3 linked regions of the Homo sapiens genome follow. The protein of the gene in region 1 purifies or fractionates together with the protein of each later gene. This does not show direct contact. Each region holds a gene or a part of one and is shown on either strand. Other genes may lie near its edges.

Evidence for each region.
Region 2: the proteins of SH3BP1 (region 1) and PACSIN1 purify together in Homo sapiens (co-immunoprecipitation; one large-scale study listed by IntAct). This does not show direct contact.
Region 3: the proteins of SH3BP1 (region 1) and HCK purify together in Homo sapiens (pull-down; one study listed by IntAct). This does not show direct contact.

The regions. Positions count from the first base shown.
Region 1 is NC_000022.11:37,645,967-37,649,684, forward strand, and holds part of SH3BP1 (SH3 domain-binding protein 1), read left to right. Parts: intron 1-851; coding exon 852-963; intron 964-1,300; coding exon 1,301-1,382; intron 1,383-1,474; coding exon 1,475-1,555; intron 1,556-2,352; coding exon 2,353-2,469; intron 2,470-3,718. UniProt on the Homo sapiens protein: GTPase activating protein (GAP) which specifically converts GTP-bound Rho-type GTPases including RAC1 and CDC42 in their inactive GDP-bound form.
Region 2 is NC_000006.12:34,464,576-34,468,175, forward strand, and holds the start of PACSIN1 (protein kinase C and casein kinase substrate in neurons protein 1), read left to right. Parts: upstream 1-1,500; 5' UTR 1,501-1,695; intron 1,696-3,600. UniProt on the Homo sapiens protein: Plays a role in the reorganization of the microtubule cytoskeleton via its interaction with MAPT; this decreases microtubule stability and inhibits MAPT-induced microtubule polymerization.
Region 3 is NC_000020.11:32,058,608-32,062,325, forward strand, and holds part of HCK (tyrosine-protein kinase HCK), read left to right. Parts: intron 1-3,718. UniProt on the Homo sapiens protein: Non-receptor tyrosine-protein kinase found in hematopoietic cells that transmits signals from cell surface receptors and plays an important role in the regulation of innate immune responses, including neutrophil, monocyte, macrophage and mast cell functions, phagocytosis, cell survival and proliferation, cell adhesion and migration.

The sequences.
Region 1 (3,718 bases):
TTTTTTTTTTTTTTTTGAGATATGGAGTGTTGCTCTGTTACCCAGGCTGGAGTGCAGTGGCGTGATCTCGGCTCACTGCAGCCTCTGTCTCCTGGGTTCAAGCGATTCTCCTGCCTCAACTTCACAAGTAGCTGGGACTACAGGCATGCACCACCACGCCCAGCTAATTTTTGTATTTTTTAGTAGAGATGAGATTATGTTGGCCAGGCTAGTCCTGAACTCCTAACCTCAGGTGATCCACCTGCCTCAGCCTCCCAAAGTGCTGGGGTTGCAGGCATGAGCCACTGCGCCCGACCCTTTTTTTTTTTTTGAGACAGGATCTCGCTCTGTCACCCAGGCTGTAGTGCAGTGGTGCGATCCTGGCTCACTGCAACCTTCACCTCCCTGGTTCAAGCGATTGTGTCTCAGCCTCCCAAGTAGCTGGGATTACAGATGCCCACCACCATGCCCAGCTAATTTTTTTTATTTTAGTAGAAATGGGATTTCACCATGTTGGCCAGGCTGGTCTCAAACCCCTGGCTTCAAGTGATCCACCTGCACAGGCCTCCCAAAGTGCTGGGATTACAGGCGTGAGCCACTGCACCCGGCCCCTCCCTTCCACTTCTGACTGGGCTTCCATTTCCCCATGATTTTTCCCGCCTCCTCCCAGACTTCCCAGCCCTGCCCTTTGCTCAGAATTCTAGACCTTGAAGGTTGAAGCCCGTGGACACCGTGGTGCCCACACTGCCAGCCAGACCAGCGGGGACACAGGCCTAGCAAAGGCCAGTGGCACACCCCAGGCTACAAGTGCGCCAGGGTGTCCTGCCCTGCCCACCCCTCTGTGACCCTTGCCTGCCTCCTCTCGAACCCAGGGTCTCTTCCGTCTGGCTGCTGGGGCCTCGGTGCTGAAGCGTCTCAAGCAGACAATGGCCTCGGACCCCCACAGCCTGGAGGAGTTCTGCTCCGACCCGCACGCTGTGGCAGGTGCCTGATCCGGGGAGCCCTGGGCAGGAGGTTGGGGGGGAGGGGGTGCAGTGGCTTGAAACGATCCCAAGATAGCCTGGCTTTAAGACTTGATATTCTGTTGAGACTGAGGACACTCGGGTTCTTAATGTGGGGTCCATCATGAGCCCCCCGAAAATGTTTGGCATTTTTCTGGGGACAAGATGGCTAGCCTTCATTTTCTCAAAAGGGCCTACAGCCCAAAGAAACTGTCAGACCTAGACACGTTAGTGTGAACAAGGGCCGGAGGTTCCTTCTACAGGGAGAGTGGGAGAGCGGGTGGGGGCTGCCTCTGACCCTCCCCACACCCCTCCTTCAGGTGCCCTCAAGTCCTATCTGCGGGAGCTGCCAGAGCCTCTGATGACCTTCGACCTCTATGATGACTGGATGAGGGCAGCCAGGTGAGGATGTTGGAGGAGGGAGGGGATGGGGAGGAGGAGGATGCAAAGGTGTAGCCCTGCGCTGGCTGACAGGTCTCTCCACTCCCCCCCAGCCTGAAGGAGCCAGGGGCCCGGCTGCAGGCCCTCCAAGAGGTGTGCAGCCGCCTACCCCCCGAGAACCTCAGCAACCTCAGGTGAGCCCGAGCCCGCCTCCCCAGCCTGCCGCAGAGCCAGAGCCCAGCTGAGGTCACGGACCCTGGGACCCTGGGCTTGAGCCTGGCCTTGCCACTGTATCCTAAGAAATATTACTGAAAATGCAGCTTTGATGGATTAGTCATTTATATATATAATTTTTTTTTTTTTTCTGAGACAGGGTCTCACTCTGTCGCCCAAGCTGGAGTGCAGTGGTGCAGTCTTGGCTCACTGCAACCTCCGCCTCCTGGGTTCAAGCAGTTCTCCTGCCTCAGCCTCCCGAGTAGCTAGGACTACAGGCGCCTGCCATCACACTCGGCTAATTTTTGTATTTTTAGTAAAGGTGGGGTTTTACCATGTTGGTCAGGCTGGTCTTGAACTCCTGACCTCAGGTGATCCACCCGCCTCAGCCTCCCAAAGTGCTGGGATTACAGGCGTGAGGCACTGCGCCCAGCCGGATTAGTCACACATTTTTATGCGAAGCATTGAAATAAATGAGACCTTGAACTTTTGAAGCCATACCGCCTGGCTTCACATGCCACCTCTGGGCAGGCCACTCAGCGTCATCATCTGGAAAATGCAGACTGTAACAATCTCTACCCTGTAGGGTGGCTGCTGAGGACTCAGCTTGGCTCAGTGCCCACTGCAGGGTTGGCACTCAGTGGATAAGCTGATTTAACTGTGACAATGTTAAGACCATTCTGGGCGGTGTCTTTCACACTCTTTGGAAACCCTGGGCTGGAGAATTCTCAGGGCTGGGTGCGTTCTGCCCCTGGCCTAAGCCTGCCTCCGCCCTTAGGTACCTGATGAAGTTCCTGGCACGGCTGGCCGAGGAGCAGGAGGTGAACAAGATGACACCCAGCAACATCGCCATAGTCCTGGGACCCAACTTGCTGTGGCCACCTGAGAAAGAAGGGTGAGGGGCCGCGGGCTGGGGGAGGTGGCAGGAGGAAGGCAGATCCCATCCCAACTATCTGTTGTCTATTTTTCCCCGGGGCCTTGGTGTCCCCATTTTTGGAGTGGGTTGAGCAGCTCCTGTTTTTGAGGCTGCCGTGAGGAACAGGCCAAAGGGGCTGTGCAGGCCACAGGGCTTTGGAGAGAGGCAATTCTGGCATTTTGGCCAGTGGTGGTGATGAGGTGTTTAGTGGCATGGGGGAGCTGGGAGCCCAGAGATCGGGTTCTTTTTTTTTTTTTTTTTTTTGAGATGGAGTCTTGCTCTTGTTGCCCAGGCTGGAGTACAGTGGCGCAATCTCGGCTCACTGCAACCTCCGCCTCCCGGGTTCAAGCGATTCTTCTGCCTCAGCCTGCCAGGTAGCTGGGACTACAGGTGCGCACCACCACTCCCGGCTAATTTTTTGTATTTTTAGTAGAGACAGGGTTTCACCGTGTTAGCCAGGGTGGTCTCGATCTCCTCAGCTCGTGATCCACCAGCCTCGGCCTCCCAAAGTGCTGGGATTACAGGTGTGAGCCATCGCGCCCCAGGTGTGAGCTGCCGCGCCTGGCTCGATCAGGTTCTACTAATAGCTCCACCCCTCCACCTTCCAGAGATGGGCCTGAGGAAGACACCCTCAGAACCTCGATTTCCTCATCTGTAAATTGGGGAGAAATCATACAAACTTTGAGGGCTTTTGCTTTGGGGAGTGAGTGATATGATGAATTGGAAAATGTTTTAGAAACTGTGAAGTGCAAGCCAGGTCCAGTGTCATGCCTGTAATCCTAGCACTTTGGGAGGCCAAGGTGGGAAGATCACTTGAACTCAGGAGTTTGAAACCAGCCTGGGCAACTTAATGAGACCCTGTCTCTACAAAAAATTAAAAAGATTAGCCAGGCATGGTGCACACCTGAAGTCTCAGCTACTCAGAAGGCTGAGATGGGAGGACTGCTTGGGCCCAGGGAGTCAAGGCTGCAGTGAGCCATGATGGAGCCACTGCATTCCAGCCTGTGTGACACAATGAGACCCTGTCTCTAAAAATGAAGAAATAGGCCGGGGGCAGCGGCTCACAGCTGTAATCCCAGCACTTTGGGAGGCCGAGGTGGGTGGATCACCTGAGGTCGGGAGTTCGAGACCAGCCTGGCCAACATGGTGAAACTCCGTCTCTACTAAAAATACAAAAATTATCTGGGCGTGGTGGTACGCGCCTGTAATCCCAGCTACTCGGGAGGCT
Region 2 (3,600 bases), on another chromosome or scaffold:
GTTTCGCTCTGTCGCCCAGGCTGGAGTGCAGTGGCGCCATCTCGGCTCACTGCAAGCTCCGCCTACCGGGTTCACGCCATTCTCCTGCCTCAGCCTCCAGAGTAGCTGGGACTACAGGGGCCCGCGACCACGCCCGGCTAATTTTTTGTTTTAGTAGAGACCGGGTTCCACCGTTTTAGCCAGGATGGTCTCGATCTCCTGACCTCGTGTTCCGCCCGCCTCGGCCTCCCAAAGTGCTGGGATTACAGGCGTGAGCCACCGCTCTTGGCTCCCGCTTTATTTTTCTACTCTGTGCATACCACTTTAAAATACACTCTTGGCCCGGCGCAGTGGTTCACGCCTGTAATCTCAGCACTTTGGGAGGCCAAGGCGGGCAGATCACCTGAGGGCGGGAGTTCGAGACCAGCCTGACCAACATGGAGAAACCCCATCTCTACTAAAAATACAAAATTAGTTGGGTGTGGTGACTCGCGCCTGTAGTCCCAGCTACTCGGGAGGCTGAGGCAGGAGAATCGCTTGAACCCGGGAGGCGGAGGTTGTGGTGAGCCGAGATCGTGCCATTGCACTCCAGCCTGGGCAACAAGAGCGAAACTCCGTCTCAAAACAAAACAAAACAACAACAACAAAAACCAAACAAAACACTCTTAGCTGCTGATATTGAGTATCTATCTTCCCTCACACATGTGAACTATGAGATGGCAGAGTTTTGGTCTGTTCTGTCCTCTGCTGCAGCCCAGCCCCTCATCAGTGCCTGATACAGAACAGGCCTTCAATAGGTATGTGCCCCGCTCCTCCCTGCAGCGTCCAGGCTCCAGGCAGCATTCAGGGCTCAAGTTCGGAAGAGTGAAGGCCGTTGAGGGTCCCCTATTAGGCCCCAAGCCCCCTAGAGAGCTCCAACGACATGGCCTGGAGTTTGCTTTGGCGACAGCCGGTCCTGCTGGAACTAGGACATGAGGGTTAGCGATCCCGCCCCATGGGGTCACAGGGCAGAAGCTGCGGGCAGGGGTGGGCATCAGTGGGGCGGTGGTGCAGGGGGTGTCGCTCCCAAGTCAGCTCACACGCACGTCTTCAACACACCCACCACACAGGCACCCGCACGCACCAAGGGACGCCGAGGCTCGGGAGAGGAGGAAAGGCCAAGGCGATGGGGAGATGGGGAGAGAGGCAGGGAGCAACATCCCGGGCTCCGAGCGCGCCAGCTGGGAGGGCTGGGGAGGAGGGCGCACCGGAGGGCTCCCGGCACGCGCGGGGCCGCGGGCAGCCCCCAGAAGAGGGAGCCAGGCAAGACTGCTGGGGCAGGGGTCGGCTGAAGCAGCGGGGAGCCGGACCCCACCCGCCACCCGCCACCCGCCACCCCCGGCGCCTGCCAAACTGGTTGCTGCCTCCCCGGCAGCCGCGGCGCGTCCACCTGCGCAGCCACCGCGCCGCCCTGCCCGCGCTACCATTGGCTCGCTAAAAATGCCTCTCTAATCTGCTCTGCTCGGTGCACGCCTCCTCCTCATCCTTCCCCCCTCTCCGCCTCAGCTCTGACCTTCCTCCTTCCCGCAGCCCCGGCGAGATCCCAGAGCGACGCGGTGGCGGCGGCAGCGCCAGCCCCCTCCTCCCCCGGGAAGTCGGCCGGGCTTGAGGCCGGGCCCCAGACGTCCCGCTTCGCCCCGAGTCGCCGCCGATGGTCCCCGGAGCTCCTGCCCCCAGGTAGGAGGTCTGGCCCTTGAATAGAGGGCGGGGGGGTTGTGTGTGCGGGTGTCCAGTTAGGGAGTGCGTGTTGGAAGTGGGCGCCGGGACTGACATCTCCCTGGGCCAGAGCCCGGGCAGGGTTGGGCAGTTGCCTGGAGAGAAGCGGGTGCGCGTTCGGGGATGCCTTCAGGGGACGGAGTTCGCGGGCATCACCCAGGCAGTGCCAGGATGCCACTGCGCTGGGTCCCTTGGGGGAGCGAGCTGGCATCGGAGGCCCTTACCCCAGGAAAAGCGCCGGAAATAGGTTCCTTGGGAAGCTGGGGCCTGGGCCCGGGCGGTCCGGGTCTCTGGACTGCTACCAGAAGGGGTGGGTGGGCTGGTGCCAGCTTGGTGCATAGGCTATTTATGGATCAGAGTGGGCTGGGGAGAAACACAGCAGCTGATGCCTGTCTGGCTTATGGTTAAAGGTATTTCCTTCTGTCCCCTACCCCTTCCCCCACAGCTGGGATGGGAGCGGGGAGGGGGGAGGAGGCAAGAAGGAGGCGATAATGCTAAAAGGCCCCGCAGATACAGAAGCCATGGGCTGCTGGGCACTGCCCTCCCCTGCAAGCCCCAGGCCACTTGCTGCCTGTTGGAGCTGCCTCTGCCCCTTATTTTCACCTTACAAGAGGCTATGAAAAGGTTAAAGGGTCATCAGGGTGTAGGAGACATGGTGGCAAACCCGGGAGCTTGGCCAGACCCAGCTTCAAGCCCCAGCTGCCCCTACCCACAACAGCCCAGGTCTGCACCACATAGGCAGTGACACATATGGCCGCTTATTTCTAGGCACAACCATAAATAACCCACATTGCCCCAGCCCCTGGCACAGCTGGGGTGCAAACAGGACTGTCTGTCAGTGATTTTGCTTCCATCCTCCATCCTGGCCTTTCTATCACAAGTCCAAATCATCACCCTCCAGCAGCTTCCCTGATACCCCAGGTGAGATCCTTGCCCCCTGCCCTATGTTCTTGGACTGCCTTGTGGCTGGGTTATTTGTCTTGTTCATCTCCTTCTAGACCAGAAGTACCTTCAGGCTGGGAATCTGATTCATCTCTGTCATTGCCCCTGCACCAAAGCAGGGTTTGGCACCAAGAAAATATCTTGTGGAATGCATGACTTATTGAATGAGTGAATGTAAACTCTGGGAAATAGCTGGCAACCTGAGGGAGGGGGTCGAGCCCCTTCTTGGGCTTTCTCTCTATTCCCCAGGACCAAAGAGCCACTCCACTCAAACCAGGTGGTTCTCTTTAGTAGGCCCTTCCTTTTTTTTTTTTTTTTTTTTTTGAGAGAGAGTTTCGCTCTTGTTGCCCAGGCTGGAGTGCAATGGCACGATCTCAGCTCACCGCAACCTCTGCCTCCCGGGTTCAAGCGATTCTCCTGCCTCAGCCTCCTGAGTAGCTGGAATTACAGGCATGCACCACCACACCCGGCTAATTTTATATTTTTAGTAGAGACGGGGTTTCTCCATGTTGGTCAGGCTGGTCTCGAACTCCTGACCTCAGGTGATCTGCCCACCTTGGCCTCTCAAAGTGCTAGGATTACAGGCCTGAGCCATCATGCCCGGCTAGGCCCTTCCTAAGCCTGGAGTTGATGGGCAGCTATGCCTTTTGGAGATAGTGTTGCAACCTGCTGGCTCCAGAGGGTCTTATGGGCCCCTGGTTTGAGTGTCCAGGCCTGGTCCTGGCTTGAGGGAAGGCCTGATGTGAAGGTCTGGCTCTCCTCAGGCCGCTGGGTTGGCACTTTCTTCCCGGGGTGCCAACTTTAGACCAGAGTCTCTGCCTCTGTCCCAGCCCTTGGGAAAATCCAGGTCAACATCAGGGAAGCTGGGAAGGCCCAAGCCAGGCCTTCCTCAGCCTCTAAGGTCTTCATAGCAAGCTCTCAGGG
Region 3 (3,718 bases), on another chromosome or scaffold:
ACACACACACACACACACACACACACACACACATACACACACTAGTCCATCATGGCGTATATGTCTTAGTTTGAGTTTCTCCAGAAGCAGACCCTAGGCAAGGTTTCAAATGCAAATAGTTTGAGAGCTGATTCCAGAGACCCTCCTAGGGGAGTAAGGAAGTGAGGCAGGGAACAGGAGGTAGTCATTAAAGGTGTCTTCTAAGCCCAGTTACCACTGCGGGCACCTGGAGCTCAATCCCACTGAGGAGCTCTGGGAGCCAGGGTAGAACAGGCTTGAGAGGTGAGGGAACCGGGGTATTTGTCCACCCTGTTCTCGCTCCTGTCTTTTGTTGAAAACTACTCCTGGGGATGTGATAATTCTCTAGCACTTTCGGCTTGCCAAGCCCATGGGCAGAGCAGGCACCAATAGCCACAGAGAAATCTCTCAGACAAAGAGATGAAGGTGCCGGCAGCTGGAAGTCCAGCCAGAATGTGCAGAAATGGTAAAGGGCAGAGTGATAGAGGCAGGGCACTGACAGCCTCTGCTTCAACATACATGTGTGTAAATGCAGAGGCAGAGGCTGAGGCCAAATGCTGGCAGAGGATATCTGGGTGGGGAAAGAGGTGGCCATGGAGGGCTTATAGAATGAGTAATCCAAGAGTGTCTTAAATGTATCTGTAATGTTTTAATCTTCCTTCCTTCCTTCCCTCCCTCCCTCCTTTCTTTTCTTTTCTTTCTTCTTTCCCTTCTTTCCTTCCCCCCTTCTCCTCCTCCTCTTCCTCCTCCTCCACTTTCTTCTTCTCTTCCTTCCTTTCTTCTTTCTCTCTCTCTCTTTCTTTCTTTTTTCTTTCTTTCTTTCTTTCTTCTTTCCCTTCCTCCTCCTCCTCCTTCTTCTTCTTTCTTGCTTCTCTCTCTCTCTCTCTTTTTTTTTTCTTTTTCTTTTTGAGACAGGGTCTCGCTCTGTCTCCCAGGCTGGAGTGCAGTGATGCTATCATGGCTCATGCAGCCCCAACCTCCTGCGCTCAAGCGATCCTCCCACCTCAGCCTCCTGAGTAGCTGGGATCACAGGCACATGCCACCACACCCAGCTAATAAAAAAAAATTCTGGTAGAAATGGGGTCTTGCCATGTTGCCCAGGCTGGTCTTAAATTCCTCGGCTCAAACGATCCTCCTGTCTTGACCTCTCAAAGTGCTGGTATTACAGATGTGAGCCACCATACCTGGCCTCTAATGGTTTAATTTTTAACAAGAAGGATGCACTAATGTTTTACTAGGTGGTAAAAGGTCATTTTAAAAATAAAATACATACCCTTCAAAAAATAAAAGAAACTGAGACCTGGAGCTTTGTCAATTATAAAAAAAATGTAAAAGGATCAGCGCCTGTGTTACTGAGGCTTTGAGGATTCCATTTGTGGAGGACAGGTTTGGGGGCAGCTGATCTCTCAGTACCACGGCAGGTTAAAGTGAAAAGTGGCCCTGGTGGTGAACTGGCCACCATGTCCTGTCTGGAGGGGGAAACTTCCACTCAGCGGCAGCCAAGGAAAGACTGCTCCTCTCCCAGCAGAAGCGAGCAAATGTGCATCACCCTTCTCAGTTTAAACATATATTTATAGCTATTGGTTTTCTTTTTGTTTGTTTGTTTTTGTTTTGAGACAGGATCTCACTCTGTTGCCCAGGCTGGAGTGCAGTGGGGCAATCTTGGCTCACTGCAACCTCTGCCTCTTGAGTTCAAGCAATTCTCCTGCCTTAGCCTCCCAAGTAGCTGGGATTACAGGCACCCACTACCACGCCCAGCTAATTTTTGTATTTTTGGTTGAGACAGGGTTTCACCATGTTGGCCAGGCTTGTCTCAAACTCCTGACATCAGGTGATCCGCCTGCTGACCTCAGGTGATCCGCCTGCCTCAGCTTCCCAAAGTGCTGGGATTGCAGGCATGAGCCATTGCACCTGGCCTATTTATAGCTATTGTTTAGACGGGAAATCTGGGGGCATCCAGCAGACTAAATGGGGACCTTACTGTCATATCTCATATCCTATTGGTCAGATGGATAATAAACAAATCAACAGGTAATACATTAGGTGCATTAGTCCAGGTCCTTTTTTATTTTTTCTTTTCTTTTTCATACTTAACTTCAGCATACCCTGAGATAGTTCAAGTCCTTTGAGAAGCAGACTCCCATAGCATTAAATGTGCAAGAAATTTATTGGAGGAAATGGCTATGAGAGAAAATGGGAAGAAACCAGGAGAGGACAGGAGAGCCATCAGATAGTGGGGTACCTCTGTCCACTAATGAAAAAGAAAAGGAAGGAAGAAAGGAAGGAAGAAGAAAGGAATAAAAGGAGGACGTGTCTTGGACTGCCATGCCGTATTTTTTTTTTGTAGTTGTTGTTCTGTTTTATTTTGTTTTTTTTGAGACAGAGTCTTGCTCTGTTGCCCAGGCTGGAGTGCAGTGGCGCAGTCTTGGCTCACTGCAACCTCCGCCTCCCGGGTTCAAGCAATTCTCCTTCCTCAGCCTCCTGAGTAGCTAGGATTACAAGCATGCGCCACCACGCCCAGCTAATTTTTGTATTTTTAGTAGAGACGGGGTTTCACCATGTTGGCCAGGCTGGTCTTGAACTCCTGACCTTGTGATTCGCCCGCCTTGGCCTCCCAAAGTGCTGGGATTACAGGCGTGAGCCACTGCGCCCAGCTGCCGTGCCATTCTAAGGAAAGTTTGTCAAGGCTGTTAAGGAGCCCTTGGCCAAAGTCTCTTGACAGAGGTCCCCCAGACATGGGTGGGCTTCGGTCTCCCTGCCACACTCAGTCATTGGCTGGGAGCAGCCCATGAGAGCAGTGATGGACTTCAGAGCACAGCAGCTGAGCCGCTGATCAATTTCTCCAGTCGTACTCCTGCAGTTGGAGATCTGAGAGGTGCATCCTCATGGCCACCACGTTTAAGAGGTGGTTAGGGGCATGAAGACTAGCTGGGAACAGGCTAGACAGTGATGGGAGTTGGGGGGCAGAGGATCCTGTCTTTGCCAGGGTGATGAGGGAAGGTTGCTCTGAGAAGGTACAATCATTAGAGAGACTGAAGGAAGTGATGGAGCCTTTCTGGGTGAAGAATATTCCAGAAACAGAACATGCAATGCCCCAGAGGTATAAGCACAGTTGGTGAGTTGAAGAAGAGCAAGGAGGGCTCCAGTGGAATGATCAAGGGAGAGTTAGAAGGAGACAGATCTGAGAGGCTGAGGAGGGGATCAGATTGTGGAGGTCTTACCCACCTTGGAGAGGACTTGGGCTTTTACTCCAAGTGAGACGGAAACCCTGGGTGGGGGTTGAGCAGAGAAGGAATGCGATCTGACTTACCTTTTTTTTTTTTTTTTTTTTTGAGACGGACTCTCACTCTGTTGCCCAGGCTGGACTGCAGTGGTGCGACCTCGGCTCCCTGCAACCTCTGACTCTGGGGTTCAAGCGATTCTCCTGCCTCAGCCTCCTAAGTAGCTGGGATTACAGGCATGCGCCACCATGCCCGCCTAATTTTTGTATTTTTAGTAGAGATGGGGTTTCACCATGTTGGTCAGGCTGGTCTCCAACTCCTGACCTCAGGTGATCTGCCCGCTTCAGCCTCCCAAAGTGCTGGGATTACAGGTGTGAGCCACCATGCCCAGGATGACTTACATTTTTAAAGGCTCACTTATTTGTAAGAGGCAGAATGCAGATTCAAACCCAGCTCTATCTGACTTCAAATCTCATGCT